Regions from separate parts of the Homo sapiens genome. Here region 2 is linked to region 1. The links come from fine-mapping of genetic effects on gene expression. A gene starts in region 1. The other region holds a variant in brackets. All regions are shown on one strand. Distances are between the middles of the regions.

Evidence for each region. PIP is the estimated chance that this variant, and not a neighbour inherited with it, causes the effect. A credible set is the group of variants that fine-mapping cannot tell apart.
Region 2: its variant is the best candidate, but not a certain one, in a credible set for the expression of TP53BP2 in whole blood (TOPMed, PIP 0.81).

Annotation. Positions count from the first base shown.
Region 1 is chr1:223,844,600-223,847,430 of GRCh38, reverse strand. TP53BP2 (tumor protein p53 binding protein 2) reads left to right here and starts at 1,484. Exons shown (of 18, transcript NM_001031685.3): 1 at 1,484-1,777. The coding sequence starts at 1,751. RefSeq lists a silencer at 1,347-1,656.
Region 2 is chr1:224,053,152-224,056,064 of GRCh38, reverse strand. No RefSeq gene overlaps it. Among named protein-coding and RNA genes, the nearest start is that of FBXO28, 60 kb to the left of the region's middle. The variant T/C (reference allele first, on the strand shown) is at 1,737.

The DNA of each region.
Region 1 (2,831 bases):
CTGAAGTGCAGTGGGGTGATCTCTGCTCATTGCAACCTCCGCTTCCCAGGTTCAAGAGATTCTCCTGCCTCAGCCTCCCGAGTAGCTGGCATTACAGGCATGCGCCACCATGCCCGGCTAATTTTTATATTTTTAGTAGAGACAAGGGTTTCACCACGTGGCCAGGCTGGTCTCGAACTCCTGACCTCAGGTGATCTGCCCGCCTCGGCCTCCCAAAGTGCTGGGATTACAGGCGTGAGCCACTGCGCCCGGGCGAGAACGTTAAATTCTAGTTGAATTAACCGTAATTTAGTATTTCCAGATACAGTATCTGGGATGGTGCAATAGGGAGTTCGATGGAGATTCTGGTAAGGGATATGGTGGGCTAAGAAAGAATTGTCTGTTCTTGATACTAGATAAACCCAGGGGATTTACCCCACTTCAGGTTCTAGAATCATGTATAAAGGCAGAGAAAAGTGATTCTGAGTGAACTTGCACTGACAACTTACTAGAACAAAGCTTCCTGGAGTTAGGGTTCCCGCAGTATGTGTCTCTCTGGAAGGTGGAATAAAAGCCTGAACCCGCTCTGCTACTCTTTGGAAGGCAGCCCTGCCATTTCCCTAGGCCTTGGCCTCCCTCCCTGGAAAAGGATGGTATCCACCGGCTCCCCGTATCGGAGGCTGTTTGCAGGGTGTTCCCAGCACCCCCCAGGGAAGCTCCTCAGAATGCTGCCTGACACATTTTTACAAAATTTATTTTTATTGTGGTAAAACATACACAACATAAAAGTTATCCCTTTATCCAGTTTGCGGTGTACGTTTGTTAACCTTACAGCAAGTAACACATGAGTTTTAAATTAGAATTTGGACAACGGCAAATGAGATGAAAGGCGAACAATCCGAAAGCCGGATCACTGAGGAGCTCTGGGAACGCGCCGCGAGCTGAAGCCACACGGGGAACTCCATTTTGTCGGGACAGGGTCGGTCCTGGCCGCCTCCAGGGAGTCGGGTAGTTTCCGCGGCGTGGCCCGGGCCTCCCCTGAAGTCCGTCCGCCTCTCTCCGCCTGGCCCAGCGGCGCGGCCGCCGGAGGACTCTGTCCACGCGCCCAACGTCGGGCGCCCTGTTCTGAAGGCAAAGGGTCCCCTGCCTCGCACGACTCGGAGCCGCCGAGGAGGTGACGGCGGCAGCCCTGGGGCGGCTCGGTGCCATTCACTACCATCCTGTTTTCCTGAGGCGCGGCCTTCCAATTGCCCCGGCTCCGCTAGGAGGCGCGCGCTCCAGCCGCTCCGCCGCGCGGCCCCGACCGCACTTCAGTCCGGGGCGAAGAAAGAAAAGGCGGCCGGCTCCCGCCGCTCCCCGTCTACCCAGCCGGGCCCGCGCAGGCGCGCGCAGCTCCCGTTCCCGCGGCCGCCCCTCCCCCAGGCCGCCGGGCGCGCCGCGGGCGGGGTCGGCGCGGGGGGCGGAGCCGGCACGGGCTCGGCTGGGGCCCGACCCGGGATTAGTTGGTTTCGGAGCGGAGGAGGGAGCCCCGACCGTCACGAGCGTCGAAGAGACAAAGCCGCGTCAGGGGGCCCGGCCGGGGCGGGGGAGCCCGGGGCTTGTTGGTGCCCCAGCCCGCGCGGAGGGCCCTTCGGACCCGCGCGCCGCCGCTGCCGCCGCCGCCGCCTCGCAACAGGTCCGGGCGGCCTCGCTCTCCGCTCCCCTCCCCCGCATCCGCGACCCTCCGGGGCACCTCAGCTCGGCCGGGGCCGCAGTCTGGCCACCCGCTTCCATGCGGTTCGGGTCCAAGATGATGCCGGTAAGTGGGCGAGCGGCCAGGGCGTCGGGCCCGGAAGTGTGCGGGGTCGCGTGCCGGGGGCTGGTCCGCGCCCTCGGGCGCGTCGGGGAAGGAGCCTGGGGGCCGCAGCCCGCGCGGAGGGGCCGGGGCTTTCCGAGCTTCGAGCGGGTTTCAGGAAGGGGAGGCTCCATCCTCTGGGCTCTGCGCCCACAGCCGTCGTGGGGGCGCGGCGAGACCCTAACCTCGAGGCGGGTTCCTCCAGCTGCTCCGGAGTCAGGCGAGCCGCCCGCGAGCCCAGCAGCCACTCAAACTTTTCGTCTTTCACTGGGTCTTGACTTTTTTGCAGTTCTTGAAGGTCAAGAATACGGGAACCGGGGACCTTGTTCTTTGCTGTGTCTTTTTACTTTTTACTGGAGTGAAACATACGTTACTGGAACGGGTACCTTTGCTTTGTTTTTAATTGAATTTCGATCTTGATATCCACAGTAGCAGCTAAGTCACCCTTACCTCTTTGTGGAAAGGGGTTTTGGTAAATGCAATCTCGGAAGTTTTAGATTGCAGGAAAGCGTACGTGCCTGGCTCCCTTCGTTTCCCACAGCTTTTAGCAAGACCTCCGGAGAGGATTAGTGCCTTCTTTAGGAGCTCCGCAGGCTTTTGACACGGCCACCAGGCCACAGATGAACAGCAGGTTTGAGACATTTCAGAAATGTCTCTGTCATTCAGCGATCGCGGAATGGAGGTTTGCGGTGTGTTGCGGTGGCTTCTGCAGACTTCAGTAGCGAGTTTCTTCGTGGAAGTTGTATTTGCACCTCTCCCACTGAAGTGGGGACATCTTGCAGGCATCCTATGCTTGTGGCTCCATTTGTTCAGACAAAGAAACAAAAAGCTTTTACTTTTATGAAGTCTGTGGAATGGAGTGATGACAAAGTTTGCAGTCATACATACAGAGTATAATATGCTGTTCCCTGGCCCCCTGCTTGTGTCATGGAGGGCGTCCCAAACTCTCACTGGGTCGACTTAACAATTCACTAGAATTAGTAATTGGGTTTAGAGGGTTTGGGATATTTTGTCCTGC
Region 2 (2,913 bases), 210 kb before region 1:
GGCTCATCCACCAAGTCATTTTGTGAGGTCATGAAATGTATTGCCCTCTCTGTGCCTCAGTTTCTTCATTTGTAAAAATGGGTAAATAATAGTACATAGCTTAGAGTATTCTTGTGAGAATTAAATGCCTTAATGCTATTAAAAGGTTAGCATGGCTGGGTGTGGTAGTGCAGACCTGTAATCCCAGCACTTTGGGAGGCCAAAGTGGGAGGATCACTTGAGCACAAGAGTTCAAGACCAGCCTGGGCAACATGGGGAAACCTGTCTCTACAAAAAATAAATAAACTAGCGCCAGGCATGGTGGCGCATACCTGTGGTGCATAGCTGAGTGGTCCCAGCTACTCAGGAGGCAGAGGTGGGAGGATTGCTTAGCCCAGGAGGATGAGGCTCCAGTGAGCCATTCATGCCACTGCACTCCAGCCTGGGCGATAGAGTAAGACACTGTCTCAAAAATAAATTTTAAAAAATAAAATAAAAATTAAGAAGGTACAGTGTTTCATATATAAGCATTTAATACTTATCCACTACTATTTTGTAGTGGATATACTATGCTCTTGTTGCCCAGTCTGGAGTGCAATGGTGTGACCTCAGCTCACTGCAAACTCTGCCTCCCGGGTTCAAGCGATTCTCATGCCTCAGCCTCCCAAGTAGCTGGGATTACAGGCATGCGCCACCACACAGGGCTAATTTTGTATTTTTAGTAGAGGCGGGGTTTCACCATGTTGTCCAGGCTGGTCTCAAACTCCTGACCTCAGGTGATCCACTGGCCTCGGCCTCCCAAAGTGCTGGGATTACAAGCGTGAGCCACCGCGCCTGGCTCATCCACTACTATTATTTGTGAACATAGAAGGGCAAACTCTCCATTGGACCAGATGGGTACAGGACCTCAGGATTAATTAGGAGAACCTATGAGGCAAATCAATGCCTTCTCTCTAATGAGGGAAAAAAGCTGGTAGACCCACGGTATGGTCTGGCTCTGTGTCCCCACCCAAATCTCATCTTGAATTGTAATCCAAATTGTAATCCCCACATGTTGGGGGAGTGACCTCTTGGAAGGTAATTAGATCATGGGGGTGGTTCCACCCCATGCCATTCTCATGATAATGAGTGAGTACCATGAGATCTGATGGTTTTATAAACGTCTGGCATTCCCCCTGCTGGCACTTCTTCTCTCTCCTGCTACCATGTGAAGAAGGACTTGTTTGTTTCCCCATTCACCATGATTGTAAGTTTCCCAAGGCCTCCTCAGCCATGTGGATCTGTGAGTCAACTAAATTTCTTTCCTTTGTAAACTACCCAGTCTCGTGTATTTCTTCATAGCAGTGTGAAAATGAACTCATACAGTCCATGTAACCAAATAACCGAATCCCTTTCCCAATGATCACTATTACTACTCAACTTAAAAATGCTACTGATAGGAGAGTTGCAGGTAAACTCTCACCTTTTCTTACATGAATAATCTATCAGAAAATAGAGGTGAAGGATCTGATTTTTGAATGTTCCATTTTTGTGTTTTCTCTTTTCTCTTTCTAGAAATAATCCCAAACTTACAGCAGTGTTATGAAAAAAATTTCCACATTGCTTTACCCCAATTCTTAACATTTTGCCACATTTGCCTATCACTCCCTATGTTATTACTCTCTACGTATTCACATTACTTTTTTCCTAAATGATTGGTGCCCTTCTATGTCAAAATACTTTAGCAGAAATCTCCTAAGAACGTTCTCCTGCATAAC[T/C]ACATGTATTAGTCTGTTCTCAGGCTGCTATGAAGAATTACCTAAGACTGGGTAATTTATGAAGAAAAGAGGTTTCATTGACTCACAGTTCTGCAGGCTGTACAGGAAACATGACTGGGAGGCTTCAGAAACTTACAATCAGGGAGGAAGGTGAAGGGGAAGCAAGTGTGTTTTACCATGGTGAGGCAGGAGAGAGAGAGAGTGAAGGGGAAAGTGCTATGCACTTTCAAACAACCAGATCTTGTGATTACTCTATCACGAGAACAGCAAGGGGGAAGTCTGTCCCCATGATCCAATCACCTCCCACCAGGCCCCTCCTCCGACATGCAGGGATTACAATTCGACATGAGATTTGGGTGGGGACACAGAGCCAAACCCTATCACCGTGGCTCAATTAGAAAATTCAGGAAATTTAACCTAGATATAATATTGTTATCTAATATACAGTCCCTGTTCAAATTTTACCACTTGTCTTAATAATCTCCTTGAGATGACTCTTTAGTCTCCTTTAATCTGGAACAACTCCTCAGCTTTGGTTTATTTTTCATGACCTTGCTGTTAGGTGTGTAGGCCTGTAGTTTTAGAGACTGTCTCTCCGTTTGGGTTTGTTTCATGTTTTCTCATGATGAGATTCAGGCTATACATGAGAACATGGTGACAATAGCCGGAAGTGGTGGTTCATCCTTCCTGGGGCTGTACATCAGGAAACTCATAACTGTCAGTTTGTCCTGCTGTTGATGATGTTAATTATTTTCTGACGTTTTGATCGTTGACAAGCAGTATAAGAACCAGGGAAACAAAGAATAACCAATGTGTTGGAATCCAGTTAAGTGGAAGGACTTCTTAGGCGAGTGCCATGCATTACCTGAATTTTTTTGGTGTCTCTGTTTCCAAGTTTCCTTTTGGACACACCTTCTCATTTTCAATTTGTTTGGGAAAAGTAAATAATGATAGTACTGTGGCAAGATGAATTTAAGGAAGAAGGCTTTGAAACATCTCCTGACTAAGCCCAGGCTGGAGAAGATGGACTGAAGGGCTGGTGAAACCCCATCTTTGAGTAGCAGGTGTTAAGGTGGATGGGGTCATGAAGGGCATACTCTGGTCCTGGGACTTACCAAAGCCACAGGTGGACCCAAAGATGGGGAGGAGGGGCCTGATCCCCCCCTTAATGCCTTCT